Linked DNA regions of Homo sapiens. The protein of the gene in region 1 interacts with the protein of each later gene in a biochemical or structural test. Each region holds a gene or a part of one and is shown on either strand. Other genes may lie near its edges.

Region 1 (8,093 bases):
TAATTCTGAACTTTGGAAGCCTTTCGTTATCAAACTCCTAGTTTATCAGATGCAGATTAAAAGGATTTATGTGTGTGTGTGTGTGTGTGTGATATACACACACATGCATATACAGAGGTATCTGTACATATTACATATGTACATATCGTAAAAGATGAAAATATATATCTTTTTATTTTCTGAAATTCTTTGACCCAGACTCAGGTAGCTAGTAGGATTTCCCATAAATTATAAAGTTTAGATAGTTTAGTCCACAAGTTTACCCACTGTCAATTCTAGATTGTTTCAGATTTTAAGTTTGCTTGCTAAGATTGAAATTCTCATATCTCAGGGTTTGCCTTTAAAGTAAAAATGTACAGAGGCTCCTTTCGCTCTAAAGAGAATAAGCCTTTGATATAGCTGTTTGAATTTACAGGGAAATAACTTCTCAAATATTAGTAGTTCTAGTGGTATTTACTTGTTAACAAATACCCCACATTTAGACTATCTTTGCCCAACTGTCTTTTCTTTTTTCTCTAACTTGTTGTAGTTGCAAATGAAGGGTAAAAATAATTGATTTATAGATGTGCTTATCATTTGTCGATCCAGAGTTTTATGAGGATTATTTTTAGTTCAAATTAAGAATTTCAGAGAGAGTGAAGATCTATGCTATAATCTTTACTATTTTGTAGTAACGAGTCATTTTATTTTTATTTTTTTATATGAAGGAAAGTTTATTAAGGATTATTGACTTATGATCACAAGGTGAAGTCCCACAAGAGGCCATCTGCAAGCTGAGAAGCAGGAAAGCCAGTCCGAGTCCCTCATTTTTAAATACTGTGTTTTCATAGAGAAACCACGAAAAGAACTGATCAAATTCATCAACTTTAGAGTACTTATATAATTAATGTATATTTTTAAAATATACCCAAATTGAAACAATGGTTAATGGTCATAAATCAAGTAAAATATTAATGTCTTCCTTTATAATTTTTTTTTAGTACAACACCTCAGGTATTGAGCCCCACTATTACATCTCCCCCAAACGCACTGCCTCGAAGAAGTTCACGACTCTTTACTAGTGACAGCTCCACAACCAAGGTAATTTAAAGATTTCTGTATGTCACATTTACTTAATGCTTCGCCTGCTAACATTTCTGTTCATTGATGACTCCATTCCTAATAAGTTAACAAAGAGACTATTTCGAATTTTAAAATGTTTTAATTTAGAGGGCCATCTATGATTTTTGTGAAGTTAATTAGTCCTTTGGTAAATATTATATAATATTCTTTTTTAATTAAAAAATTTTTTTTCTCAAGTTAAAAATGACATAGGAATAATCTTGAAATGGCAAAATTATAGGAATGGACAACAGATCAGTGATTATTAGGAGTTAGGCCTCTAGGGAGGATGTTACTATTAAATCATGGCACAAAAGAATTGCATTGTGGTGGTACAACAGTCCTGTATCCTGATTGTGGTGGTTGATTACACAGATCCATTCACGTGATAAAATTTTATAGAACTATGCACACACATACACACACACGGGTTTATATAAAAACTGATGAAATCCATGTAAGGTCTTTAGCTGATAATATTGTACTAATTTCAGTTTCCTGGGTATGATGATATACTATGGTTATGTCACATGTTATCATTTGCAGAAGAGTGAGTCTAAAATTATTTGAAAATAAAAGTTAAAAAAAACTGGAGACCCGGCGGACGCAGTGGCTCACGCCTGTAATCCTAGCACTTTGGGAGGCCAAGGTGGGCCGATCACTTGAGCTTAGGAGTTTGAGACCAGCCTGGTCAACATAGCAAGACCCCATCTCTGAAAAAAAAAATTAGCTGGGATGGTAGTACTCTTTGATCCCAGCTGCTTGGGAGGCTGTGGTGGGAGAATCACTTGAGCCTGGGGAGGTCAAGGCTGTGGTGAGCTCTGATTACATCATTACACTCCAGCACGGGCAACAGAATAAGATCCTGTCCCAAAAACAAAACAAAGGCCGGGCACGGTGGCTCATGCCTGTAATCCCAGCACTTTGGGAGGCCAAGGCAGGCAGATCACCTAAGGTCAGGAGTTCGAGACCAGCCTGACCAACGTGGAGAAATCCAGTCTCTTCCAAAATAAAAATTAACCGGGCGTGGTGGCTCATGCCTGTAATCTCAGTTACGCGGGAGGCTGAAGCAGGAGAATCGCTTGAACCCGGGAGGCAGAGGTTGGGTTGCGGTGAGCTGAGAATTACATCTACTTATTTTCTTACTTTTAAATAATAAATGAGAGTTTGATATACTTTCACAAGAGGGCTACACTTAATGCTGACACACCTTAGTCACTATTAGTTAATGTAATTTATGTTCAGAATTACTGTGTTTAAAATTAAATGACTTTGAAGACCTTTGTTTTTATAAACTCTCTTCTGAAAAAAATATAGAATTAATCAAGATTGTACATTTATTTTATATCTAATACTGGAGAAAGGGCTGAGGAGAAATCTAAAATACATGAGTATAACAGGTGTGAAATTTCTTCCCTTTTACAGGAGAATAGCAAAAAATTAAAAATGAAGTTTCCACCTAAAATCCCAAACAGAAAAACAAAAAGTAAAACTAATAAAGGAGGAATAACTCAACCTAACATAAATGATAGCCTGGAAATTACAAAATTGGACTCTTCCATCATTTCAGAAGGGAAAATATCCACAATCACACCTCAGATTCAGGCCTTTAATCTACAAAAAGCAGCAGCAGGTCTGTTTTAAATGCTTAATATTATCTTTGTATTTTATTATGTACTTATTTTAAGTAAATTTCTTTATGTTCATTACAGTACCTTCATTGTTTTTTATATAGATGTTGGAATTTTTAATAGATTAGTTTGTAATTACCTTTTCTAGAGAAGCAGACTAGTTTATTGCGTTTTTTCCTTTGTTTACTATGTTGTTTTCTCCTAGAAGGTTTGATGAGCCTTCTTCGTGAAATGGGGAAAGGTTATTTAGCTTTGTGTTCATACAACTGCAAAGAAGCTATAAATATTTTGAGCCATCTACCTTCTCACCACTACAATACTGGTTGGGTACTGTGCCAAATTGGAAGGGCCTATTTTGAACTTTCAGAGTACATGCAAGTAAGTATAGAAAATGGTTATATATGCCTTTCTAGAGATAATTTCAATTTCATTAAAATAAATGCCCATGCTTAAGAAGGCTAGATCTAAAAGATCAGTATTTATTATGTAATGTCTATATATTTATTTTGTCAGTATTTATAATTTATAGATATAGTTCTTTCTTGTGTTAAGGAGTAATTTAAATTCTTTGCAACTTCTCGGAATAGGTTTATAGAGACCCAAGTCATCCAGACATTCTTACGTAGAGTGTGTCCTATTCAGTTGTGTCTGAAAATACATATTTATATTTACCATGTAATAGGATTTATTTATTTTTCTGCAATATACAGAGTTAATTACTGGGGTGAATTTTTGACATCGAATATGTTTTATAAGCTTGAAGAATGCTATAAAGAAAATTGTGCTGAATTGAGGACACAATGTCTTTAATACAAGGCTTTTTACTCTTTGGATTTTAATTAAATTTGTTGCTTAAGTTATCTGTCTATACCAGAAAAGGAGAGAATGATTAACCTAAAGCCAAAGAAAATTCTAATTCCCAATTTATATTACCCCTTAGTTCTTCCCAAAGCATTTTCTCCACCCCCAACTTAAAAAAAGAAACCTTTTAGAAACCTATATATTAATAAAATATCTCTAATATGGATTAAAGTTGATATGATTCGTTTTTTGCTTAATTTGCTTTCAGTTCATTTATTCAATATATATCTCTGTGCATATGATATCCTGGACTCTCTTCTAGACTCTGTATTACAGCTAGTCAGACAATTTCTTGCCTCTGTGGAGCTTACATTCTAGCAACAGACAGATTATAAGCCAATAAATGTATAAGAACAGGTAGCAATAAGTCATGAAGAAAAATGAAGCATGGTGAGGAAACTGGGAGACAATGAAGTATGGTGTTTTTGTTTTTATGTACTCAGAGGGAAGGTTACTCTTCCCTTCATGATCCATGCAAAGATCTAGGGGAAAGGTGTTCTTTCCCACAGGGAATACATACAGAGGATACCTATTCATATAATTTAATTTTGAATAGTACAGAACAGAGAGTTGAAGACAGAAAGTCTTATTCATTGCTACAAAACCCATGTTTCGATTATGGTCCTTTACTGGTATGTAGCATATACACAGACAGGCAAGAGCTGTGTTCGGAAAAGCCATTTAAAAAATTATTTCTAATTTATTGTTTCACAGCTACTTTAACATAAATGAATTTTATTGTTTCCCCTAGTTATAGTGGTGACCCAAATATTTAATTAAAGAAAGCCTCTGTTTCAACTTAATTTCTGAGTTTTTTTCCCATTTTTCTTTTTGTCTATGCCATAATCATTTTTCAGAGGAAGCAACAGATTCTGAAAACTTTGAAACCAAAAGGTACCTACCTATATTTGGCTGGTAGGTCTTTTATCTTGTTACCATGCCTGAATGAAAAACTTGGCCAGGTGTGGTGGCTCATGCCTATAATACCAGCACTTTGGGAGGCCAAGGAAGGGGGATCACTTGAGCTCAGGAGTTGGAGACCAACCTGGCCAATGTGGTGAGACCCTGTCTCTACAAAAAAATGAAAAAATTAGCTGGGTGTGGTGGCACTCACCTGTGGTCCCAGCTACTTGGGAGGCTGAAGTGGAAGGATCACTTGAGCCCTGCAGGTCAAGGCTGCACACTTACCTTTATAACTTTTAAGAGATTGCAAGGAAGTTACAAATCGTTAAGCTATTCCTATATATCATATGACCACTTCTTGGAATTAAGCACTCAGTTTTAAAATGCTCTTATTTTCTGTCATACTCATTTCATTAAGAATAGTCCAGATATTCCTTATTATAAACTAAACTGTGAAAATTTCTTTTCCTTTCTTTTTTTTTTTATTACCTAGACCTTTTCTGGCAGCTGAGAATTTTGAACTTGGTAAATTGATAAACTAGGAAACTGATTTTATATAACCTAAATCCTCAAACTTTAGAGGGAGAGAAACACAGTTCTGGGAGCTGTGAATGTGATGAGGAAAAAAATTGATGAGGCAGCTGAGGAGAGACCCTGAAGTCAAGAGAGTGCTGCAAAGGAAAGGATAATTAATAGGTAGGGCCTATGATTCCTAGCAGACACAATATTGGTGTGTATATTCAGGGCTCAATAGGATTTATAACCATAGGATTGATAGCCAGCTTAACCTGTTTCTTCCCTCTAAATTTTCTGGCACAACCTCTCGGTAAAAATTGTTCAAAAATAGATTTTATGTTACAGAAATCATTCTTCCATCATCTTTCCTAAAAGAGTTATTCTGGCCAGGTGTGGTGGCTCATGCCTGTAATCCCAGCACTTTGGGAGGCCGAGGCGGGTGGATCACAAGGTCAGGAGATCGAGACCATCCTGGCTAACATGGTGAAACCCTGTCTCTACTAAAAAATACAAAAAATTAGCCAGGTGTGGTGGCAGGCGCCTGTAGTCCCAGCTGCTTGGGAGGCTGAGGCAGGAGAAGGGCGTGAACTCGGGAGGCGGAGCTTGCAGTGAGCCGAGATTGCGCCACTGCACTCCAGCCTGGGCGACAGAGTGAGACTCCATCTCAAAAAAAAAAAAAAAAAAGAGTTATTCTGTAATGCCATTATTAAAACTTGGAAATGAGGTTTTTGAGAAGGAAATATTGACTTTTCTTTTGAATTGTAGCTTTGTATAGATTTCTCTTCGGTCTTTTTGGTAGAAACTCAAATTTCCTTTTCAGAGTTCATGTTCTTACCATGGCTTGTATATAAATACTAGGTTGACTGTCAATATGGTTACATCACTATTTGACCTGCCATAGTAGATTGCTGAATTTGTCCTTGTGTTAATACTCATTCACATAAAAACCATAATACAAGGCAGCATTTAGATCCTGTGAAGATAATGACCAGGGCTTTCCCTGTGTATATATATAAATTGTATCAACTTGTTTTCTCTTACTAGTTTTTTTTATTTCAGGCTGAAAGAATATTCTCAGAGGTTAGAAGGATTGAGAATTATAGAGTTGAAGGCATGGAGATCTACTCTACAACACTTTGGCATCTTCAAAAAGATGTTGCTCTTTCAGTTCTGTCAAAAGACTTAACAGACATGGATAAAAATTCGCCAGAGGTATGTTAACCAAAATACTTTGCTTATATAGTTACCTTTTTGATCACCCTCAACAGATAGAGATGAACCAAGCAATTCAAACACTATTTAGTGTCACCCACGCTTATTTCTTTTTTTTCCTCTCTCTCTAGTCAGGGACTCAGAGAGGAAGAGAAAGTCCTAGAATGTGTGGTGCAGATTCACAAATAGAAAAATCACAAAGCAGCTATTTCATTCAGGATTTATCGAGATTTGACTACGTTAAATTTGCTGTTGTCACCAAGATTAGGGTTCGTTGAGCAGAAGTTACATAGATTGAAAAAATTAATAATTTTAAATTAAAATAAATTAGTATTGTCATTGTAAGACATAGGTGCAATTAATGTACATGCTCTAATCTTGTAAGATTGTATTTCATTGCATCTCAAAAATATTTAATGATACTTTTGTAACATATCTAAGCTTAGAATTAAACACAGTCAACTCCCATTATTTGCGGTAATTCTGTAGTCAACATGAACACTGAATTAGTGCTACTGAACCAATGTTCCTGGGAGTGATGGAGAGTTTGAAACAGAGATAGATTGTGGATTATAATCTTGAATCCTAAAAATAACTCATCCTGGTAGATCCTATTTTCTTTACAAAAGAGAGAATGCTGCTGGGTGTGGTGGCTCACACCTATAATCCCAGCACTTCGGGAGGCTGAGGCAGGCGGATTCCTTGAGCTCAGGAGTTCCAAGACCAGCCTCGGCAACATGGCAAAACCCTTCTCCACAAAAAATACAAAAATTAGCCAGGTATGGTGGCTGGCATCTGTGGTCCCAGCTGCTCGGGAGGCTGAGACAGGAGGATCACTTGAGCCTAGGTGGCGGAGGTTGCATTGAGCCAAGATCACACCACTGCCCTCCAGCCCGGACAACAGAACAAGACCAGATCTCAAAAAAAAAAAAAGAGAGAGAATGAGGTTCAGAGGTGACTTGCCTGAAGCCATCCTACTTAAAAGTGCCAGCAGTGGGATTCAAATTCTGTCCAACTGTCCCCAGAGCCAAAGCTTCTTGCACTACACTAAACTAGCCCACAGAGTTTCTGTCCCTGGTCATCTCTGCATGAGAGCTAAAACAAGAAGGTAGAGTCACATTATTCAACCTCAAATGAGAACATACCTTTTGATGACTATGAAAGCACTGCAAGTATTGATTTTGGTTTTACAAATAAATTTTAGCAATCAGACAAATTCACAAATATGGAATCTGTGAATAATTAGAATTGAGTATCTACTGAAGCTCCTCCATTTTTGTCTTTCTGTTCTAAGTTGAGGCTTGATTTTAGTCATAGATTTGGTTTTAGAAAAAGTAAAATTTTAATTCTGTTTGGTTTTTGTTCCCATTTTTTTAAGGCCTGGTGTGCTGCAGGGAACTGTTTCAGTCTGCAACGGGAACATGATATTGCAATTAAATTCTTCCAGAGAGCTATCCAAGTTGATCCAAATTACGCTTATGCCTATACTCTATTAGGGCATGAGTTTGTCTTAACTGAAGAATTGGACAAAGCATTAGCTTGTTTTCGAAATGCTATCAGAGTCAATCCTAGACATTATAATGCATGGTAAGTGGTAATGAAGTACAAAGACAAAGTCGTATTGATGGTGCTGGTACTTACTAATTTTTCTTGTTAGATAGCTCTTTATTATCATGAATTTGGTTACTTATACTTAGGGATGGTACATACTGGTCAATAACTTCTAACTAAAATGTTTTCTTATGAAATGTACGTCTTTAACAAACTCTTAAATTAACTAATGATAATAGAATACCAGATCCTTATACTCAACAGTTTCAGCCTTCTACCAAACTTTTGCAGATACTGTAGTTGTTTTTTGTTTGTTTA
Region 2 (8,093 bases), on another chromosome or scaffold:
TCACAACCCTATTTTTAGTTCAAGGGCCTTCTAAGCAGGAGCAATCAGAAGCTCCCCCTCAAAAAACCTGTTGCTTAAACTCAGAGTCTAGTTTACTCATGAGCAAAAAATAGCTGCCTTAATTACTATGTTTCATCTCTTATTAGCAAATGAAAGCTGATATGCAAAGATTAAATCACAAGGACACAATGAAACGGAGGGATTCCAACTCCTCTATTAAATTTTCAGCTCAGATACTAAAATCTAAAATTCATTTTACAACACTATGTTAACTGCTTTTCTCCACAGACTAATAACAGCATACATTGAGAAATCATTTTCTGAACTCATAATTTGGTCAACTGATTTGAAAATATTTGTCATTTATCTTCTGAGACCTTAACTATGCCTTTTATAATAAAAACCAACAAAAAAAACCAGTAAGGCTATGTTTTCTAATTTTAAAAGAAATTGGTAGTGTATTCATTATGCTCATAAAAATAAAGTATTTCAAAATTGTTATATTAGGCAAAAGATCATTTACTAAAAGCTACTGAGACATTATCTGCGAGTATGGAATAACCATCTTTAGCTAGTGAGAAATTTTTTATTAAAAATGTGTAACACTTGGCTTAATTTCATTTCATTTTTTACTTCTATCTGTGCATCCAATATGTAAGAAACTAAGATCAATCACAGACACTCAATAAAGACCTTTTTGGGTCACAAACAGTACTCATTAAACAAATGCAAATTATGGTCCTGGGGAAAAGAGCTTCTTACCTTTCGAATAACTTGTTGCTGTTGTGCATGCTTTGCTCGTAATTCTGACACCTCCTTCCAAAGGGACTCATTCTCACTATGTTATAATTTATTAAGCAACAAAACAAAAAAAAAATCAATCAAAAAACCAGACCATAGTATCTTTAATTAAGAATACCAGACAACTGAACTACACTTGTTTTTACTATATGTATTTATGAGACCAAGAAAACTTTGGTTCAATTACATAGGAATGACAACTACCTTGACACAACTCCTGAATCATTCTTTTTTTAAAAAAAAGGTGTAGCTTTGCTCTGTCGCCCAGGCTGAAGTGCAGTGGTACGATCTCGGCTCATTGCAACCTTCACCTCCAGGGTTCAAGCAATTCTCGTGCCTCAGCTTCCTAAGTAGCTGGGATTACAGGCATGTGCCACCACAACCAGCTAATTTTTTTTGTATTTTTAGTAGAAACGGGGTTTTGCCATGTTGGCCAGGCTGATCTCAAACTCCTGACCTCAGGTGATCCACCCACCTCGGCCTCCCAAAGTGCTGCGATTACAGGCATGAGCCACCGCACCCAGCACCAGAATCATTCCTTCCTAAGTGTAGTATCTGCTACTCATGACAATAGATACACAGAAACTTAAGACATATGCCTACATCAATATAGTAGTTGGCAATTTACTACTTTTGACAATCTGGCTCATTATTTTTTGCTTAAAAAAAAATAAGCTAATCTTTCAACTGTGGTTACCAAGTGAATTCAGGCCTTCCTAATCACCTTAGGAAATAAAGGGTAGTGATATATACCCAGCACTTACTATACTCTAAGCACTATGCTAGACATTTTATGTGTATTACTTATTTAAAATTTCTCTAAAAACCACCAAGAAATAAGTCATCATCTCTATTTTATAGATGAGGACACTGAGGTACAGAGAATTGAGGGGAACTGCTCAAGATCATACAAATAATTTGGTAAGTGTTGAAATCAAACTAAAGTCTGTCAGATTCTAAAACTATCTTAAGATCTATCTCAAACAACAGCATATGTAAACCACTAAAATGTTATTCTGAAAAAGCATATCCAATAATAAACTAATAACTTGCCAAATATGAATAGCTTCTTCTTCGTTCACCTTTTTTAATTGAAACTGCATTATGTTGTTAAATGTTCGCAGCACGGAGAATGCTGAATACCTATTAAATGCTTTAATTTTCCATCTTTTGTTATTCTCCACAAGTCATCTTCTTTAATCCAAACTAATATAAAAGGAACTGGAGATTTACATATAAGGGTATACCAAAGGAGATTTTAATATTTACTGAATAACTACTGTATTTTTCTGATTCAAATTAAAAAATGTTGTTATCTGCTTACTAAATAAAGATAAGTAGGGCTGGGTGCGGTGGCTCGTGCCTGTAATTCCAGCACTTTGAAAGGCCGATGTGGGCGGATCACTTGAGGTCAGGAGTTTGAGAACAGCCTGGCCAACACAGTGAAACCCCATCTCTACTAAAAATACAAAAATTAGCTGGCACATGCCTGTAATCCCAGCTACTAGGGAGGCTGAGGCACAAGAATCGCTTGAACCGGCAGGCGGAGATTGCAGTGAGGTAAGATCAAGTCACTGCACTCCAGACTGGGTAACAGAGTGAGACTGTCTCAAAACAAAAACAAACAAACAAAAAGATAAGGAGAAGAAAGTTCCCTCTAAGGTACAAAAAATGATTTGGGGATCACTTTCTTTAAAGGCTGAAACTGTGGTCCCAAGGAACTGGGTCAAAGAGCAGCTAGTATACACAAGATACATACAGTAAACAAGTTGTTAAATACACAAGAAGAGAAAGCCTAAAGCTTATTTAAAAAAGAAATCAAAGTTATAGGTTCCTCTTTTAATGAAGATATTTGAGTTATGATTAACTAAAGTAACGTCTCACATCTGATATGGAAGAGAGAATATGTAAAGTAACCACTCTTAAGCCCTTGGCACCTATTAGGATACAGAAAAATTCCAGCTACTTACTAAGAAGAGTAATACACTATCTACTCTATACACAAGTTATTAGTATGGCAAGTTACAATAATGGTAACCAAGAAATGTAGTAAAATAAAACGAAGCATCTTTCTGTAGATAAAAGCTCTGAATAACACTTTTCCAAGTCTATACGAAATAAGTATCAAGCATGGCAACTCTCCTGCATCGTTTTCCGATTTTTTTGTGTCCTACTTTTTCCTAAGAGTCCACACAAAGAAATCTTAAGAGACAGCCATTAAACAAAGGATGGGTAACATACAGGGTTTTTATGTCGTATGCCCTCATTGTCTATGAGCACCATATGAGCTAACCTAAATAGAATCATATTTCCTACATCATCTTAAAGACCTACTGTTTATTGCTAAGACTTATACATCAAACTGTTTTGATACGCTTAGGTTTATATCTTCTTCTGACTATCATAATTAAAACAATATTAGAGTAAAGTCAGTGGCCACAAATCAAAGTAAAGGGAACCAATACTTGCAGAAAAATGACCTTTGATCTTGGCTTCAACAAAGTGATCTGAGTACTTACAATAAAACATCAGACAACCTCCAAACTCAACACACATAGACACATACCCAATTCCCAGATTAAAATTATATTTGGAAATAACACTTTACCTTTTTAATTCAGAAAGCCTGGACTCAATAGTTTCCTGTTTTATCTGAACCTTCTGAGCACTACTTATAATTTTTGTTAAATCTTCCTGACGAATTTTATTTTCTTCTGGTTTTGAAGATGAAACCTTTGAAAAAGTAAATTTAGAAAATCAAAGAAACAGTAAACACCCATGATTGTAATTCAAAGCTTCCCTATTAGAAGAGGTTTTCGTAGCCTGTTCAGGAAGTGAGATCTGGTTCCAAAAGCCCGGGATGAAATGCTAGGGAAAGAATAAACTTCAGAGCTCAATGGGAGAGAACGCAAGGAATAATCTACTTAAAAAAAATTTTTTTTTAATGTTAAAAAGTTTCCGCAAGCAGGAATATCTTAGAGTCTTTTATTCTCCCCTTATGCCAAGCTCCTTGCAATTTCCCCCAAGCCTCTTTATTACCACATTCCACATTTAATTAAATTTATGCAGTAAAAGGTTCATGCTAGGCCATTTTCTTTCATGGTCCACCCCTTTTACAGATTTAGTAAAATATCTTATTTTACCAAAAGATATTATGCATTAAAAAATATATTACTGAATGTATTTCTGAATGCCTACTATGTGGGCATATTTATATTATTAGAAGAGACTTATTGTAGGTACTGGATGTACAATTACAAACTATAGAAAAAGTCTTCCAGGGAGCTCATATTCTAGCAGGAACTTAAACTTTTTTTTTTTTTTAAGCTAACTTAGGAAAAAAATACAGGGAAACAAGTAAAACTTTATTATCCTAATTCATCCCAACAAGGAACAGTTGTGCATTTCTGTACTTTCAACAGCTGAAATAAAAATCTTGGCCAAGCACACTCCAGGTCAATACCCTAATTAGCTCACGTTCACAATAGCTCACCTTCCTTTTAATGTTCTCCAACAAGTCATCCTGTCCTTGTTTGAAGTAAGGATGCTGAAATTCTACAGGACCATCTCTTTCTTGCTTTACAATTCCAGAGTCGATATGTACTACTTTACGGAAACCATCTGAAAAATATTCAAAATTCAAATGACTAAAATAAACAAGTCAAAATTTGGTGGTGCTTGTATGGAATAATTTTCCTTTACCACCCTAATGGGAAAAAAAATGGCTTCATCAGTAGCTGATAATGGTACTCCAATAAACTGCTGTCCATACTCACACATATTCAGTTGCCTCACAAAGCTTGCCATATTATTGTGCTTGAAATATTTGGGAAGAATTTCTTTTGCAAATCGTTGCTCATCCAAGACCAGAAAACTTTGGCCATTCTGCAAGGGGAAAAAAAAAAAGAAAAAGTAAATTAGTTAAGTTCCTATGACACATGGTGATATATTTATACATCCCACAACTGTCTTGAGTAGTCCAGTCCCTCCTTGATGTCTTCAGACCAACATTCTATTCTTGACAACAGGAACAAGAAACAAAATTGCAATTAAGCAACAAATTGCAACTAAGCTTTTTGATGTCAACCTCAAAAGTTTAGGAACATATCTCAAACCAAATGCCACATCACACTCTATGGTGAAATATTAGAACTTCCATTAAACCAGCAATGAGAAAATGAAATACAATTATGTAGACAGCATAATTAACATTGTTTTAAAACTAGTGCAATTAAGACCAAAATAAAAAAAAAAGATTTTGAGAGGAAGTACCATTTTATAATTATTTGCAGTAGACATAGTAGACATAATTGTATCTTTGTAAAATCAATTTAAAAACCCTTTAAGAATTCAGTAAGATACGTGGTTACTAAATTAATATTAAAAGTCACTAGTGTTTTTCTCTACAAAAAACAAACACCTGGAAACACTACAAAAATAAAGTAATCAAAGTAGCATGGTACTGGCATACTGACAAACATATAGATCAATGAAATAAAATAGACAGCCCAGAAATAAACCCTGCCAAAGGATTTTTGACAACAGTGTCAAGACCATTCAATAAAAAAAGGACAGTCTTTTCAACAAATGGTGCTGGGAAAACTGGATATCTACATACAAAAAAATGAAGTTAGACCCTTATCTGATAACATATATAAAAACTAACTTCAAATCAATCAAAGACCTAAACACAAGAGCTAAAGAAACTTTTAACAATAGTAGAGCATGACATTAGACTTGGCAATGATTTATTAAATGTAACACTAAAAGTACAGGCAACAAAAGCAAAAATAGACAAATGGAACTACATCAAATCTAAAGACTACCAACAGACTGAAAAGGCAACCCTCAGAATGGAAAGAAGAAAGTGCAAATCATATACCTCAGGAGTTAATATCCAGAACATAGACATAACTCTTAAAATTCAAAAAGAACAAAAGACAAAAAAAACCCAAACAACCCGATAAAAAACGAGCAAGGATGTGAGTAGATATTTCTTCAAAGAAGATATACAAACTTCCAATAAGCAAATAAAAAGATGGTCAGTAACACAAATCATTAGGGAAATGAAAATCAAAACTAAAACAATATACCACTGCACACCCATTAGAATGGCTATTATCAAAAACGCATAAAACAAGTGTTCACAAGGAAGTGGAGAAATTGGAATATTGGTGCATTATTGGTGGGAATGTTAAAATAGTGTGGTTGCTGTGGAAAACACTATGATAGTTCCTTTAAAAATTAAACAAAGAACATATAATCCAGCAATTCCATTCCTAGGTATATACTCAAAAAAAAAAAAAAAACCCAAAAACAACAACAAAAAAACAAAACAAAAAAAACCATAAAAGCAACGACTTGAACAGATATTTGTACCCCATGTTCACAGTAGCATTTTTCACAACAGGCAAAAGGTAGAAGTAACTTCAGTATCCACCAACACATGGTGAAATATATATGGATAAAGTATGGTATATACATGCAATGAAATATTATTTCACCTAAAAAAGGAAATTCTCACAAGCTACAACATGAAAAGAACTTTGAAAACATTATGCTGTGAAATAAGCCAGTCACAAAAGAACAAATACTGTACAATTCCCCTTATATGAAGTTTCCATAATAGCCAATTTCAGAGACAAAAAGTAGAATGGTGGTTGTCAGGGGCTGCGGGGAGGAAGGAGTTAGAAGTTATTGTGAAATGGGTATAAAGTTTCAGTGTGGAAAGATAAAAATTGTTCTGGAGATGGATGGTGGTAATGGTTGCCTAACAATGTGAATCTAACTTAATGCACTTAAAATGGTTAATTTTATGTTATGTATATTTTACCACAATTAAAAAAATTAGAAACTAAAATGGAATAAAATATCCCAATAATAATAGAAAAATGTTAAGTATCTAAAAATAAAATTTAAAAATATACAGGAACTTTAAAAATATTAAAACTATAGAAATACAAAAGGAAGACAAATGCAGTATTGTAAAGGTGTCAATTCTCTCTAAATTAACCAATACATTAAATTCTGTCTTAATTAAAAAAATGATTTGTGGAGTAAAGATGAATTGATGCTATCATAACCAAATGTTAGGTACATAAGTTCATTTGTAAAAATAATTACATAACAACAGGAAAGAAAATATTGAGAACAATGGGGAGGAGTATTTTAACCCTACCCAATACAGATTATAAAATTATAGTGTTAACAATTTAGTACAAAAGAAGAAGTGATTACATAGATGAATGGACTGACTAGAGAGGACAGATGAACCAGCAAATCTATCTGAGAATTTACCAGGTAGTAAGTCAAGATGGCATTCAAATGGGGGGATAATCAGGAAAGAAAAGGATTAAGAAATTTTCCATTTGGGAAGAAAAATAAGAGCTCGATGTCATCTTACTCTTTACAAGCAAGCTTTTGGAGACATGACATAATAAACCCAGAAGACATATAGATAAAATATAAATTTATCCATGGAGACTGCTAGCTTCCTACTCTATCTCTACTCTCCTCTACTTTCTTCCTAACAGAAACACAATTTTGATGAAAAACACATTGTGAAATTTAGAAGAGACCCAGACTCATAAATGAAGAATGTAGAGCAAAACAAATAATGATTTTCCCTTATTAGATTAAATTTACAACCCTTGACAATAACCAGTATTGGCAACTAGGTAATTATCAAAATTAAAATGCTTAAAATGCATACGTCTTTTCCTATCTTAAAAGAACTTTCCCTCTTATACCTTCTTTTTCAATCTACCCATCTGTCTTTTCCTTAACTGCAAAATTTAACAAGCAGGTATTTTAAACCCCCCTTCTCCAATTCAGGACCATCCACTTACTCTCACTGAAAACTGCTTTTGGTTCCCTCACTCGACTGAAACCAGATTTCTAAAATGTCAAATATCAAATTCAATGCCCTCTTTTCAGTCCTGATCTTCCTACACCTCTCTGTGGCATTTCATTTGGTACAACTAACAATCTCCTCCTTAAATGTTCGACTCTCTGGGCTTTGATGCTAAACACTGTTGAGTCTCTTATCTCTTATATTTCCTTTCAATTTTCTTCCACCTATCAAATAAGAGGTAGCTGTATTTTCCAGGTTTTTATCCTTAATCGTGGCACCATTCATATTCTTTCCTTAGAATTCATCCACAGTAGGGTATCTTATTATTGACTTTATTTTATAATAAACACATCTACAGCTCTGTCCCTGATCATCTCAAATTACACACTTCAATTTAAAATGTTAACATTTTTTACACTATGTTCTTTAACTCAGTATG
Region 3 (7,850 bases), on another chromosome or scaffold:
ATCCTTATGTAATCCAAATGCCGTTTCCTCGAAAACCACAACAAATGCTGCTAAACCAGATAACAGGACCGGGAACATTCGGCCCCCCAACCCCCACCCCACAACACACAGCCTCCGCCCCCAGCTTTAGGGCCAGCAGAGGACATTTATGTTCAGGAACTCCTCTCCAGGACAGATAAATAATTGCTACTAACACTCTCAACTGCAGATGAGCACCCTTGAGGGATCCGGATGCCATAAACTGTCCGGGAGTGTTGGCATCTGGTTCTTAAAGCCAGGACCCCAGGAGGCGTCTGCGTCTGCAAGCTGACTTGGAAGTTTCTGGCCTCTTGATGTTCTCAGTCGAAAATGGTGCATTAGAAAGGGGATTGGTCTGGCCCGCGCTTTGTAGTAGTAATGAGGGCGCGAATCGCGCTAGGCTCTGCGCGCGCGAGGCTCCGCCGAGCAGGAGGACTGGGGCTGCACATCCTCCCGGCTCCCCCAGGGCGGAGAGGGGGGCCGTTCTGGAAGAAAAAATTGTTTATGCGCAACCTCCGAGGGTTCCGAGGAGTTAGGCAGTAAGACGGTGTGGAGGTTGGGGGGGCGGGGCGAGTCTTTCAATCTTTCAAAGGTATTTTTAGGAATCCAGGATCAAAGCCATTCGGCGAGAAACCGAAATAATCCAAAGGAGTAAATAAATCTCGCCATGTGCTAAGACAGTGACCTTCTCCCCATCCACCCTTCCCTCGCGCCAGCCCCACCCTGAACGCCTCGGTTGCAAAAACAAAATAAAGCAAAACCTTTTGCTTTGGCAACCTCTAAGCCACATTATGCCTCCTTTTGCAAAAGGAAGATTTCTTTCTTCTCCCTCTCCCGGCTTTTTTCCTTCGTCCTCTCCTCCGCCCCTCACCCGCCCACCCCCCCCCCCCCCCGAGCCCTTTTCTTTTCTTCTCGGTCCTCTTTCCTTCCCCAAATCACTCGAAACTTAAGACGTGCAGCGTCTGCAGGTGCGCGCGGGCCGGCGGCCGGGCCTGGGCGAGCCTGGGACTGCCGGGCCTCGCAGGCATTGATCAGCTGGGCGCGCGCGCTGAGTGACGGCGCGGTTGCCATGGCAGCCGCCTGAGCGGCGCCGCGAGGACAAGGCTGCAGGGCGGCGTGAATGGGCGGCGTCACGCGCCTGGCGCCAGAGAGTCTGCTCCGGGGCTCCGGCTCCGGCCCCGCCGCGGCCTGGCCCGCGCGCCGCCGCCGCCGCCACCGCCGCCGCCAATTCATCACCTGTCAGGGATCACTCGCGGGGTCACGGGCGGAATGGACACAGCTGTGAGAACAAAACCCGGGAAAGAAAGGCGAACGCTCCCCATTGCGCCAGATGTGCAGGGAGGACCTTGAGACGCGCCCCCCGCCCCCGCAGGCTCCTCCCGCCCCCCGGCGCATCACGCGGGGGTGGCAAAGGCGGCCTGGCCAGCGCGGAGCTCCCGGCCCGGAGCTGCTTCTGATTACCGCGAGGGGCCCGGACGCGAGAGCCGCCGCGGGGCCTGCCCTAGAGGCGGAGTGAGTGAGTCCTGGAGCCAGGCTGGGGGACCTTACGGGCCGGTCTGTCGCTGCCACGGGGTGGGGGCGTCCCGGTGGGGAGTCGAGGGGAACCGCACCAACACCCACCAGCGGAAGCCCTGCACACCTTCCCACCGCCCGCGGATCTAGCCCTCCCTCTAGCTGGGGCCGTTTGAACTTTGGAGGCCTCAAATGCAAACCCACCCAAGCCACCAATTGACAGATTTTGACTTGCCTTTAAACCCACTTGGAAAATGCTCCGACACGATTTTCCCCCACGAAAGCAATTTTTAAGGTGATTTCATATTGGGCGTGCTGAAACAGACACACTAGTAACTTAGGCCTCGTTTAAATCATTAACTTATACAGCTTCGTAATCCCCTTTAAATGATCTTTAAATGAATGTAAAACTGGGTAGCGTGCCAATAGAATCGAATTCAACACAGCCAGGCAGACTGGACTCTGACATGGCAGCTAAAGAAAGAAACACCAGAAAACTTTCACCATATTTAGCCATTTTACTACATCAGGGTACAAAAATGATCATGGGAGAAGGCACTGCCTTAATCAACTTTGCAAAGTGTAAAGTGAAACCGCACAATGCTCATTACCGCCCAACCCAGAGCCTGGCTGTGGGGATAATGAGGCTGGCACGGATGTTAACATACGGTGTCCTTGGAAAAAGCTAGGAATGCGTCAGTATCGAAGAGCTGCAATGTCCAAGAATCATAAGTAATAATTTGAGAATCCCAAAGATGTTTGTTTACATTGGCTATTATTGTAAAATAGTCAAAGTATAACATCATGAACCAAAATAGTGTCAAAACAAAATCTGTTCCACTGTGGCACGTATGTGACAGAAACACATGCACACAAAGTACATCAAAAGGCTCGAACTGTGGGAGGACTCGGATAGTAAATCACTTCCAGACTTAATATCAGAAGAGATACGGTGCATCCAACGCTGTCAGGGACAGAGTCGCAGGCAGCATTGCCTGGCCTGGGGAAGGCCCTCCGCAAACTTCTGGCTGGACAGGAAACAGTTTACCTCCTTCCTCCAAACTGAGGGGGCTGAATTTCAGGAAGGTGAGCTCCACCTCAGTGCCACCCACTCTGCCTCCCTGGAGAGGCGTCATGGGGCGCATAGCTGTCACGTGACGGTCAGAGACTGCTGGCCCCACCAGCTGAGAAATTAATCATTAATTGAAGGAAAAAACACTGTTTCCCCATTATCGAGCTTTTCTTTCAGCTTCTAGGCCTGCCCCTTCCGCTTTCTGAAATGCAAAGGAGGTAGAGATTGAGGCAGAAAGTAAATAAGATTTGAATATTGCCTTTCCTGGAGTTTTCTAGTTCATTGTTTTCTGGAGCAAATATTTTCAAAAACAAGAAACTGACACACTGTGGTCAAAACAGAATTCTAGATAAGCTACAATTATGTGAAAATTAAGGTATTTAAGTAAATAGCTGCAAACTTTTTAAAACTTAGACTGAAAGAACGAGTTCTTAAAAGATTTTCAGCCAAAAAAAAAAAAAAAAACCTTGAACCCGTATTCAGTACTAGTGCTGAAAAGATTCCAAACCTCATATGACAGAATATTTTTTTTTCCTTAGTGTGAAGATGTCTATCAATGGCTAGGGCCACCTATCTGTCACAAAGCTTTGGAACTCCTCTAGGTGTTGGAATGTGACACCAGAAATCACAATTAGTGCATAATTAATCACATTACTTTGCCACCTACACGGAAGGGCACAGACCGGCAGCCTTTCAAGGGCAGTGTATGTAAATGTAGTTTCAATATGCAAATTCTCCTAATTATTTCCGATTAATACGATCATTATAATAGCCCTGCCTCCTTCTTGAAAAGGAACCCTGAAAGCGCCCTGCCTGTGAGAGCTCCTTAGCGACCGGTGAGGTTGGGCATGGTTTGCAATAAGTACTCATTTTCTTGAGTTTACAGTAATGCCTCCCGCGCTGCTCCGGGTTGCAAAAGCCCACACTAAGCCTGTCGTCGAATGCGTGCGTGGGTGGTTTGTTTGTGTTAACATAACTTTTCCTTATCTGAAGAGACGAACTCACTCTACAAACGTGACTCTTCAGTGACAACCTAATTTGCGTTTTCACTTTCTTCTGAAATGCTTTCTATCTTTCCTCACGCTCTCCCTCCGATGGGTTGCAGTGAACTGTGGCTTCCCCCCTGCGGTGCTGAACTCGCCCGTGTAGCTGTGATTTTAGAGCTGCCGACAGCTCTAAGGTGTGTAGGGCTTGGTCTGGGAACACCCCCAGGGCAAGGGTCCCGCCGCGCGCTTGGAATTAGAATTAAGAATGCATATTTAGGCGCCCAGGGTCTGCCCCCTTCTCCCTCCTCCTTCCCCTCCCCCTTCCCCTCCCCCTTCCCCTCCCCCATCTTCCCTTCTCTTCCTCCTCCCTCCTCCTCTCCCTCCTCCCGCCTCCCTCCTCCCCGCCCCCCGCCCGCCGCTCCCCGCCCCCCGCCCCCCGCCAGCCCCGCACTTACTGTACTGTACTCTATTTACCACCCCAGCTGGGCTCGCGCCCCGCCCACCCCGCGGGGATTGGCTGCGAACGCGGAAGAACCAAGCCCACGCCCCGCGCCCGCGCCCACCAATGGAAGCGCCCGCTCGTCTTGATAGACGTGCCACCTTCCGCCAATGGGGACGAAGGGAAGCTCCAGCGTGTGGCCCCGGCGAGTGCGGATAAAAGCCGCCCCGCCGGGCTCGGGCTTCATTCTGAGCCGAGCCCGGTGCCAAGCGCAGCTAGCTCAGCAGGCGGCAGCGGCGGCCTGAGCTTCAGGGCAGCCAGCTCCCTCCCGGTCTCGCCTTCCCTCGCGGTCAGCATGAAAGCCTTCAGTCCCGTGAGGTCCGTTAGGAAAAACAGCCTGTCGGACCACAGCCTGGGCATCTCCCGGAGCAAAACCCCTGTGGACGACCCGATGAGCCTGCTATACAACATGAACGACTGCTACTCCAAGCTCAAGGAGCTGGTGCCCAGCATCCCCCAGAACAAGAAGGTGAGCAAGATGGAAATCCTGCAGCACGTCATCGACTACATCTTGGACCTGCAGATCGCCCTGGACTCGCATCCCACTATTGTCAGCCTGCATCACCAGAGACCCGGGCAGAACCAGGCGTCCAGGACGCCGCTGACCACCCTCAACACGGATATCAGCATCCTGTCCTTGCAGGTAAGACCTGCTCCGGGGTCCCCGCCCCGCCGCCGCACACTCCCGCGGTCGTCTGGGCTGTCACTAGGAGATCCGTAGCCCAGACGGTGACTTTCGTATGAGCTATTTAACTTTATTTTCTTCAGAATCTGCTGTAGATTGAGCTGTGCGTGAAATTGCTAGTAAGTTCTGACATGTTAATGCGTCTGTCTTTAAATCTGAATTGTTACCATAAACGTGTTTAATGGAACTTGCTGGTCTGTGGACTACAAAAAAAAAAAAAAAAAAAAAAAAACCCTTTCTACTTAACATTGTCTTAACCTCGTACTCTTTATCCTCTTTCTTTCCAGGCTTCTGAATTCCCTTCTGAGTTAATGTCAAATGACAGCAAAGCACTGTGTGGCTGAATAAGCGGTGAGTGTTTGCTTGTGCCACCCGTGGGTAAACTGCCCCTCGGTGTGTGTGCGCGCGCGCGCATGTGTTTTTGCTTGTGTATCTATAAAATGTCTGATTTGGTAAATGCATGCTTACTTCGCGGTGTTACCCGTACTACATTGTCTCACTAGACATGAAGGAGCTTGTAGCTTTGGGTGCTCGAGATCACAGAACATTTTCCTTTAAAAGGAAATGATGCCAATAACTTACTACGAAGGCGGCCGAGGAACGTGTGTATTGGCTTTGTAGCAAATGTAATGCCCTGGATCTTCCTACGAGTCCTCTGGTACTATGAGGTACTAACCTCCACTGTAATTAATCTTACCGCCACAAATTCCATAGTGATCCTCCTTCCCTAAAACTATAGTCCTCTGGGATTCTCTGGGCTAGTTGAGGATTGCTACCCTGTGCCTTCAACCCTGTGATGTGGGATCCCAGACTTCCCTATCTGTTAACTAAAGGGCTGTTTTCAATCAAATAATTGTTACGAGAAGCAGACTGGCGCCTGTAGCACTGCTGTTGGAGATCCAAATAGGAGATTGGGTTGGGAAGTTTTTCCCTTGAGTCTCTGCTATTTTAATGTTTAATTTGCGCTGTCGAGGCGAGTGTGTGTGTTGCATCTGGACGCCAGGGTTTGCCCAATCTTTGAGTGTTTGGTTAAATGTTCAAACTGTGGCTTCCTCCCGGCGCCAGTCGCCCGCCTCTGCCCTTAGGTTACATTCTCTTAAACATGCCTTTCTCCCCCACTCTTTCGCAGGTGTTCATGATTTCTTTTATTCTTTGCACAACAACAACAACAACAAATTCACGGAATCTTTTAAGTGCTGAACTTATTTTTCAACCATTTCACAAGGAGGACAAGTTGAATGGACCTTTTTAAAAAGAAAAAAAAAATGGAAGGAAAACTAAGAATGATCATCTTCCCAGGGTGTTCTCTTACTTGGACTGTGATATTCGTTATTTATGAAAAAGACTTTTAAATGCCCTTTCTGCAGTTGGAAGGTTTTCTTTATATACTATTCCCACCATGGGGAGCGAAAACGTTAAAATCACAAGGAATTGCCCAATCTAAGCAGACTTTGCCTTTTTTCAAAGGTGGAGCGTGAATACCAGAAGGATCCAGTATTCAGTCACTTAAATGAAGTCTTTTGGTCAGAAATTACCTTTTTGACACAAGCCTACTGAATGCTGTGTATATATTTATATATAAATATATCTATTTGAGTGAAACCTTGTGAACTCTTTAATTAGAGTTTTCTTGTATAGTGGCAGAGATGTCTATTTCTGCATTCAAAAGTGTAATGATGTACTTATTCATGCTAAACTTTTTATAAAAGTTTAGTTGTAAACTTAACCCTTTTATACAAAATAAATCAAGTGTGTTTATTGAATGGTGATTGCCTGCTTTATTTCAGAGGACCAGTGCTTTGATTTTTATTATGCTATGTTATAACTGAACCCAAATAAATACAAGTTCAAATTTATGTAGACTGTATAAGATTATAATAAAACATGTCTGAAGTCAATACCTGAATTCCGAGTGGTTTTTAAGATCTCTGGCATTCACTAGCTCTTTTCTCTCCCTGTCTCCCCCTCTCGGCCCCCCCCCCCACACACACACACACACATTGTTTTCTTTATCCCCTTCTCCTTCATCCCCCCACCAGCAGCACCCCTGAAGCTTTTACTTGTGTACAGAGAATCTTATCAGATGTGTGGTAAGGCAGAGGGCTGAGTTGACAGGGACTGGGGAGGCTTTGAGCACAGAAGTGCCTCGAGTCCTTAAGAGAAAGCTTGGTTCTGTGCCTCAGGGCTGAGTTTAAAGCCAAGAATGAGTTGAGTCTGGGAGTGTGGAAGCACTACCTGTCTGAGTGGGCGTTAAGACGCTTCTCTGGAGTAAATGAAAGTTAATCAGGAGAAGAAAAGAGGCTGTACAGAATTCAGAACATGATTTCAGGTTTAAGGGAAGGCAGAAACACCCGAGGGTTACTGTTTGCACAGGGAACTAAGCTGTCACCTGGCCCCGGGCTCCTGAGGCCTCCTTGGCTTCGCCTGCGTCCACACCTGTAGCCCCCCCGCCACACCCCACCCACCTCCGGGCCTCCGGAGACGGGGCTGGGCCGGGCGCATTTTCCCGGACTTTTCGATCGCCCTCAGCCTTGACTGCCGCCCTGGACTGGAAGGAAGAGGCAGCGGGCAGAAGCCTTTCCCAGCCAAAGACCGCGGGTGGCCACGTGCTCAAGACTGGTCTGCGTTTTCAGTCCCGGGGCGCGAGGTGGGCTGGGAGGCTCTGGAAGGCGGGTCCCAGGTGGACGCGAACCGGGGGAGGAAGGGATCCGGGCGGGGCAGCAGCTCACCTGGGGCGGAACAGGTGTTCGGGCGGCGCCACCGAGGAGTCCGCGCGTCTCCCCGCCCTGACCCCCGATCGCTCCCCGCGGGCGCTGGCGCTGGAGGAGGGCGGGGGCCGTGGAGCCGCGGCCGCCCGGATCGCCCTGCGGACCCGCGCCGGGGACTGGGCTCTGCCGGGGCCAGCGCGGGGCGGTCGTGTGGTTGATCATCATACCCGGAGGAAGCCCTGAGGGCCGTAGGGGCGTCTTCCCCGTCGCAGGCTACCCGCGGACCTGGCCCCCAGGTCCCCGCCACCTGTCGCCAGCCGCGGCCCCGGCCGACCTCTGCGCGGCGGGGAGGGAAGCGCGCTCTGGTCCC
Region 4 (8,093 bases), on another chromosome or scaffold:
AATTAAAAAAATAAATTTTACAAAAAGAGAAGACAAGAATCAAAAAATCTACCAGATAGAAACTTTGCAGCAAAAATTCAAATAGTAGCTCAAACCATACTAAACCCTATATCCTCTACAAAACTAAAGATTATTCAAACTTTATAATCTCCAGATTAAACAACTGATCTTAGACTCTCTCTAGACTGACTTTTGAAAAAGTCTTTAGAAAAACTAACTCCTCCCTTTCTTAAAAGCCCATCTTACAAAATATAAACTAGGAAAAGCTATTAAACTTTAACTGACATACCTGGCAATCACTTATTATTTAACAGCATTTTGTGTTTTTTTTTAAACTGTGGTCAAATACACACAATATGAAAATTAACATTTTAACAATTTTTAAGTAGACAATTCAGTAGCATTAACATTAAATTGACGAGCTTAGTACAATTTGTGAGCTTGTACAATACTGCACATTTCCAGAACTTTTTCCTCATCTCAAACAGAAACTCCGTGCCCATTAAACAATACTCCCCATTTCCCAATGCCCTGAGCTCTGGTAACCTCTATTCCACTTTCCCTATGAAAGGGCCTGTGCTAGGTATCTCATGTAAGTGAAACTGTACATTTGTCCTTTTATATCTATTTTATTTCACTTAACATAATGTTTTCAAGGTTCATCCATGTTATGACATGTATCAGAATTTTATCCCTTTTTAAAGCTAAACAATATTCCACTGTTAGCATATACCACATTTGTTTATCCATTCATCTGTCAATGGACATGGGTTGTTTCTACCTTTTGGCTATCATAAATAATGCTGCTGAAAACACTGGTGTACAAGTATCTGTGAATCCCTGTTCTCAATTCAATTGTGCATATACCTAGAACTGGAACTGCTGGATCATAATGGTAATTCTAAGTATAACTTTTCTTTCAAGAGATGGGGTCTCACTCTGTCACCCAAACTGCAATGCAAGGCATGATTCTAGCTCGCAGCAGCCTAGAACTCCTGGGTTCACATGACCCCCCTGCCTCAGTCTCCTGAACAGCTTGGGAGTACAGGCATGCACCACCATGCCTGGCTACACGTGTAACTTTTTGAGAAATCGCCAAACTTTTCCACAGCAGCTATGTTACATTCCCATCAGCAATGCACAGGAGTTCCAATTTCTGGACATCCTCACCAACATTTGTTATGTTTCTTTAATAACAGCCAACCTAGTAAAGTGGTATCTCATTGTGGTTGTAATCTGCATTTGCCTAATGATTAGCGAAGCTGAGCATCTTTTCATGTGCTTACTGACCATGTGTGCATCTTTAGAAAAATGTCCATTTAAGTCCTTCTGCCCAATTTTTTAATTGGGTAGTTTGTTTTATTGTTGAGTTGTGGGAGATTTTAATGGTTAAGAAATGAAAATTCAGGAAGAAAACCATGCATGAGAGCTGTGCTCCAACCTGAAATGTCCAAAATCTACAATGCACCGATTACAGTCTCAACTTCCTTTGATGAAATCCCATCCTCTCAGCCTCTAAAAGTAAATATTTTAACATCTCTTTTATCCCTGATATCTAAGAGATCACTAACCCCTTCCACATCTCCCTCTGCTTTATCACCCCTTCTTTGCCAAGGCACCAATCTTTTACCTGAACAGTCACAAAATAGTGCCCCTGACAACAGTCTCCCTCCTCTCCAGTCAATCCTATATATATATTGCTAACAAAGCAATCTCTTCTCAAAACACAAAATTGATCGCTTCCATTTTAAAATCCTTGGCAGGCTCCCTTCAGCACACAGTTTAAAATCCAAATTCCTTGGTTTATATACAAGGCCCTTTGGTCTGTATACTGCCAGCATCCACTTGCATCTCTCCACACCCACACTTCGTGTACAGCCATTCTGAAGTTTAAAAAGTCATCTTTTTCCATAATTCTTTTTGCTGTGATTTCCTCTGCCTAGAATGCCCTTCTGCCACCATTTTATAACACAAATAGCATCTTCTTTGAAAAACCCTCCCTTTGGCACTCAGTCCTTTGGGCTCTCATCACTCTGTGGACAGGTAGTTATTATACAGCATTCAGAATACAGCATTTCAGGTGATCTGTTTGTTCTCCTTTCTAGGCTATGAGTCCTTCAATGGCAGAAACTACATTCACCTTTGTAGCCCCAGCATAATGGCTGAAACAGAGTGAGACTAAATACTTGCAGAAGACCAGGCACAGTGGCTCACGCCTGTAATCTCAACACTTTAGGAGGCCAAGCCAGGAGGATCACTAGAGCCCAGGGGTTCAAGACCAGCCTGGACAACATAGTGAGACCCCCATCTCTATTAAAAAACAAAAAGAATAAATGAAAAAATAAAAAGAACAACCAAAAAAAAAATACTTGCAGGATAGGTAAAACAATGAACAGATAAAATCTGAGTCACATATACCTGATATTATTTCATAAACAAAATAGAAAATTATCTTTCTCCATATTAGCAAGAAGATTAAGTAACAATATATTTTCCAGATCAAAAGACTGAAATTCCAAATCTTACAATTACACTTACAAGTGATCTTAAGATAAAGGAGATAATATATCTAACTGCACTTCCATAGAATCTAGTAAATAGGCAACTGTTCTTGGAGAAATTAAGATGAAGATATAGAAGCAAAGAACTACTTGGATATCATCAAATGCACTTTTCACATCTATACTAACTATATGAATTATATGGGAAAAAATTTACCATCAAAAAGATCACTGGCTTCAACACTCCAGGACACAAATGCTTTCACATATGCCCTCAAATGTTGGAATAATGATTCAGTTTATCCTTTCCAATAAATAGAATACAGTACTCATCAGGAAATAGTTAACGGTAGGCGGGAGGAGTGGGAGGAAGCAGTATCCAGATACAAAGATTTCAGCATTTACAAAAATGAAACTTAACATTAGTCAAAGCCTCCAAAACCTCGTCAACCCTAATTCAACTACAATAAATGCATTAGTTCTTCCTCCAACTTTTTGTTATAAAAATTTTCAGTAAGAAAAGTTGAAATAATGCAGCAAACATATTTCACCTATATCCAACAATCATGAAAATTTTGCCATATTTGTTTGTGTGTGTGCATTTGTGTACATATGGGATTTTCGGAATGGGAATGCTGACTGTTTAAAAATAAATTGCACACACATCATGACATTTCACCCCTAAATACTTCACCATGCCTTTTCTAAAAATAAAGATGTTCTCCTATAAAACCATAAAATCATCGTCCCTGAGAAAAAAATAATACTTCTCTAACATCAGCTACTGGCCAGTAATTTTCAACTTTCCCAAATTTTCCCCAAAAATATCTTTTTAGCTAGAAAACCAGGACTCAATCAAAGTTCATTTAACAAGGATCAAAAAATACTGCATTTGGTGATGTCTCTTTAGTCTCTTTCAATGTAGAACAGTCCCCACCTTTTTTTCTTTCTCCGTGACTTTTTTAAAGAAACCAGAATGTAGACTATAAACTTTTTATAATGGAAAATTTCAAATAAATACAAAGTAAACAGAATAGGATAATGAATCCCCATCAGCCAGTTTTAATAATTATCAAGCTTGGCTGGGCATGATGGCTCACGCCTGTAATCCCAGCACTTTGGGAGGCCGAGGTGGGTGGGTAGATCACAAGGTCAGGAGATCGAGACCATCCTGGCTAACACAGTGAAACCCCAGCTCTACTAAAAATATAAAAACAAAATTAGCCGGGTGTGGTGGCGGGCAACTGCAGTCCCAGCTACTCGGGAGGGTGAGGCGGGAGAATGGCATGAACCTGGGAGGCAGAGCTTGCAGTGAGCTGAGATCATGCCACTGCACTCCAGCCTGGGTGACAGAGCAAGACTCCATCTCAAAAAACAAATAAATAAATAAACAATAATAATAATAATAAAGCTTTAGCCATTCCTAGCTATCTATTTCCTTATCTCATGGTATTTTAAAATATAATTCTCTATTGCCTATATTTCCTATAAATAGGAAGTTAGGTCTAAATATTCATATTTTTGGGAAGAAAACTTAGATGACATCATGTACTTCATTCTGTATTATAGCTAGAAGCACATAATACTCCTTCATGTCACTACTAATTATGCTAAACTCAATCACTTGATTGAGGTGGAGACTGACAAATAACTCCAAAGTAGAGGTACATTTGTTCCTTCACATTTACCAGGTAATCCACAGGGTGATGTGTTGGTGCCATGGTAATATTCTTTCAACCAACAGTGTTAGTATCCATTTACAATCCTTGTTGGAATCAATTATTGCACTGGAGGTTACAAAATGGTGATATTCTAATTCTACAATTCCTTTTACACTTATTAGCTAGCATTCTTCTCTAAGTACAAGTTTTCCTTCATCAAATGGAGATGAACTGCATGTCTTCCTGAAAAAATATGGCAAATGCTTAATTCTTTCCCTTTCATTATCAACTTTCAGAACAGTTAGTTATAACAGCCAACTGCAATGGCTGCAAAGCAGATTTTTTCCTTTCTCTCTACCATTATGAATCCCACGATTTTTATTTATTCAAATCTTTGCAATCAATTATAGTAATCATGTGTTAAAATATTTCTGTACTCTTCATGTTTTATAGGTTTTTGCTGGCAATAACAAATTGAATTACATAAGGACAGAGTGTTTAAAGATTACCATTAAAGTGACAAAGAAGAGTGTAAAAAAAGTGATGATATAAAAATAAAATTAAATTTTTATTTTCCTGCCATTATCTTCACATTATATTATGTCATGTTACAACGTACACCCAGCTGCTGAGATCATTAGGCTGGTTTTATCATTTCTGTTAAATTTTAAAACAAAACTTTTTTTTAATTGCATTAAATAGTGAATCAAATGCTAAAATTCAAATCAACTCACCTGCTGAACAGGACTGTCAACTGTAAATGCTTTATAAACTGCCAATGCCTGGCTTTTACTTCCTTTGCTCCATATCACCATATTTCCAGCAACATAGAGTTCCTCATCATAGTCCACATCTTCTCCAATTTCACTTACTCCTTTCCTTAACTGCCAGCTTTCCTTAAAAATTAACACATGTAAAACATATTCAAGCACTCTTTTTTTGTTCTTCAAAAATCTGGAACAAAATTTATTTGCCCATGGAGTAAGACTCAATTCAAACACAACTCCTACAAAGTTTGGTACACTGATTAACGGAGGATGTGGATATATGCATTACACTACAGAATTACATGAAGAATTTACTCAATAATTCTCTATATTGAATGTTTTATATTATTCCTCTATATTACTCTGCCAAAAACAAAAACGAACAAAAAGTACACCTTCTCTATAGTTCCAAAAGTCAAATCACATGCTTGGGAGACTAAAAGGACATATTAAGTATATGAGGTAGGGTAGGGAAAGGACAGTGAGGTGCACGTGGGAATCACTTGGGGAGTTCACACACAAATGCAGACTTCCTGCTTCGCAATCACATATATATTCACCTTCTTTTCCTTTGTCCCACCCACCAAAATGAATGGAAGAAAGAGAAGTTTCCATTTGTAACTACATAGGCTTTCCCTCCCCGAGATTTTAGTATCCCAAAGGGATATGACAATGGAATAAGGCAGGAGGGATTCATTTTCTGACACACACTTAACATCTCATTCCTCTACTTAAGAACTATTACTCGCCGGGTGTGGTGGCTCACGCCTGTAATCCCAGCACTTTGGGAAGCCGTGGCAGGTGGATCACCTGAGGTCTGGAGTTTGAGACTAGCCTGACCAACATGGAGAAATCCCGCCTCTACTAAAAAAATACAAAATTAGCTGGGCGTGGTGGCACATGCCTGTAATCTCAGCTACTCGGGAGGCTGAGGCAGGAGAATCACTTGAATCCAGGAGGCAGAGGTTGCGGTGAGCTGAGATTGTGCCATTGCACTCCAGCCTGGGCAACAAAAGTGAAACTCCGTCTCAGGAAAAAAAAAAAGCTATTACTCTACCTACTTTTGTGGCATTTCTTCTCTCCTTTAGAAACATGTAAATCTTCTGCAGCAGGGACTACTTCTAATCTCTACCATTTAATCATTAGATAACATGAAATCTGGTCCCCACATATTAAGTGAAAAGAAAAAGGTTTAAAATGGACAACAATCATACTACTGAACCTGACTCACATTATAACACCACAAGTTGGCCGGGCACAGTGGCTCACGCCTGTAAACGCAGCACTTTGGGAGGCCGAGGCGGGTGGATCACCTGAGGTCCGGAGTTCAAGATCAGCCTGACCAACATGGAGAAACCCCATCACTACTAAAAATACAAAATTAGTAGGGGTGGTGGTGCATGCCTGTAATCCCAGCTACTCGGGAGGCTGAAGCAGGAGAATCACTTGAACCCGGGAGGCAGAGGTTGCGGTGAGCCAAGATCGCACCAGTGCACTCCAGCCCGGGCAAAAAGAGCAAAACTTCATCTCAAACAAAAAAATTGAAAAATAAAAAATAAATAAAACCACAAGTTATAGAGGGTATCTAAATAAGTCGCTATGACAATGTAATAAAGTCATTATTTTCAACATTTATTGAAATTACCACACCTTAACTCTACTCTAGAAGTGGCATCACACCGATCTCTCAGTTGCATCTTAGTAGCCTTAAATTACAAGTAGATTATATCACTCTACATTTCAAAAACACAATGGGAAACTCAATGGAACCTTCTGTTTCTCGTGGATTGTAACCTCCTGAAGGGATCCCACCAAGCCAGCAGCACCATCAGAAGACCATAATTCAGAAGCTGGCTGCAGCTGGCGAAGTTGAAGGTTCAAAGCATTAGGGTGGTGCTTGCAGTGGTCTCGACCAAAAGGAACAAATTCCTGCAAATCCCTTGCTGCAATCATCGTTGTCCTTTCTTCATAGAAGTTCGACATGGGTTCCAAATATCAACATTATTTCTGTATGAATTCAAACACATTCTGGTCAGCTTCCAGACTCAAAACTAGAATAAAAATACCATAAACACACAAGTCATTAATCCTTACATGGGTGTCAAGTAATTATATCAGACTGGTAAGTATATAAGTTGGTCATAACATAAAAGGGCATTCTAGATCTGATTCAGACAGTTGCAATTATCACATTTTAGTCACAGACTGACAGTTACCACTATAGGAAACCACTGAGATGCAACAAGTACTTATGTCCCGCACCACCTATCCCGTGTTTCCCACTACTATACGCTAATTTTTCCATACTTTATATATGAAGTATTTAGACAAGTTGTATTCTATGGTCCCATAACTACATGGCTTTTCAACATTTAAGGTCATTTCTGGTTAGATGCCAGAACCTCATTTGAAAAGTACATCTAAGGGATCATTGTCATATTGGAATAAAACAATAAAAAACCACACATTACTCTAATTCATCAGAGGTTGAACTGCTTTCAGCTGACCAATCTACAAAAGACATAGGTTTTCAAATGTCTTAAGTAGCTGTGACACCCCCAATCCCACCTAAATATATAACTACAATCAATTTCAATTATTGGTCGAAACCCAAAGAACCGAGGCATGAATAACTCTAGCCATGGAACAGTTATGCTTGCAGATTTAAGGGTACTAGGTTTTAATTAATTATTACATCTAATTAATCTAATTATTAATCTATTACAGTACAGTTTATTACTAAAAAAATGTGGATGAACTGTTAAAGCCTTCATCACAAGGTTAGGTAGCAGCCAGGCTTTAGACAAAAGTACAGATAAGCATAATTAGATTGTCCTTCGATCCACTTTCCTGTACCTGTTTATATATACCATGTTCCTATAGACAGCATTTTTAATGTTAGGAGCCTAAGACTTTTGAGATGATGCAAGCTAGTCTTAAGACCCCATCAAGGAACCACATTAGCATGAGAATGTGGTTTATCTCTCTGTCCTATGACTTCATCCTTCATTCTCTGACCAATCAATACCTTAACCCACTACCCTCTCTTTAAAACCTCTGGACCGGGTGCGGTGGCTCACGCCTATAATCCCAGCACTGTGGGAGGCCAAAGCAGGCGGATCACTAGGTCAGGAGATCGAGACCATCCTGGCTAACATGGTGAA

The links.
Region 2: the proteins of CDC27 (region 1) and HSF2 form a complex in vitro, tested with the Homo sapiens proteins (one study listed by BioGRID).
Region 3: the proteins of CDC27 (region 1) and ID2 form a complex in vitro, tested with the Homo sapiens proteins (one study listed by BioGRID).
Region 4: the proteins of CDC27 (region 1) and ANAPC1 form a complex in vitro, tested with the Homo sapiens proteins (one study listed by BioGRID).

The regions. Positions count from the first base shown.
Region 1 is NC_000017.11:47,136,870-47,144,962, reverse strand, and holds part of CDC27 (cell division cycle protein 27 homolog), read left to right. Parts: intron 1-980; coding exon 981-1,080; intron 1,081-2,526; coding exon 2,527-2,734; intron 2,735-2,937; coding exon 2,938-3,110; intron 3,111-6,071; coding exon 6,072-6,224; intron 6,225-7,602; coding exon 7,603-7,811; intron 7,812-7,817; exon of another isoform or gene 7,818-8,093. UniProt on the Homo sapiens protein: Component of the anaphase promoting complex/cyclosome (APC/C), a cell cycle-regulated E3 ubiquitin ligase that controls progression through mitosis and the G1 phase of the cell cycle.
Region 2 is NC_000006.12:122,408,966-122,417,058, reverse strand, and holds part of HSF2 (heat shock factor protein 2), read right to left. Parts: intron 4,687-8,093; coding exon 4,578-4,686; intron 4,423-4,577; coding exon 4,295-4,422; intron 3,535-4,294; coding exon 3,410-3,534; intron 839-3,409; coding exon 763-838; intron 1-762. UniProt on the Homo sapiens protein: DNA-binding protein that specifically binds heat shock promoter elements (HSE) and activates transcription. In higher eukaryotes, HSF is unable to bind to the HSE unless the cells are heat shocked.
Region 3 is NC_000002.12:8,677,784-8,685,633, forward strand, and holds ID2 (DNA-binding protein inhibitor ID-2), read left to right. Parts: upstream 1-4,272; 5' UTR 4,273-4,382; coding exon 4,383-4,730; intron 4,731-5,059; coding exon 5,060-5,116; 3' UTR 5,117-5,123; intron 5,124-5,901; 3' UTR 5,902-6,678; downstream 6,679-7,850. UniProt on the Homo sapiens protein: Transcriptional regulator (lacking a basic DNA binding domain) which negatively regulates the basic helix-loop-helix (bHLH) transcription factors by forming heterodimers and inhibiting their DNA binding and transcriptional activity.
Region 4 is NC_000002.12:111,873,914-111,882,006, forward strand, and holds part of ANAPC1 (anaphase-promoting complex subunit 1), read right to left. Parts: intron 6,937-8,093; 5' UTR 6,913-6,936; coding exon 6,700-6,912; exon of another isoform or gene 6,580-6,699; intron 5,059-6,579; coding exon 4,897-5,058; intron 1-4,896. UniProt on the Homo sapiens protein: Component of the anaphase promoting complex/cyclosome (APC/C), a cell cycle-regulated E3 ubiquitin ligase that controls progression through mitosis and the G1 phase of the cell cycle.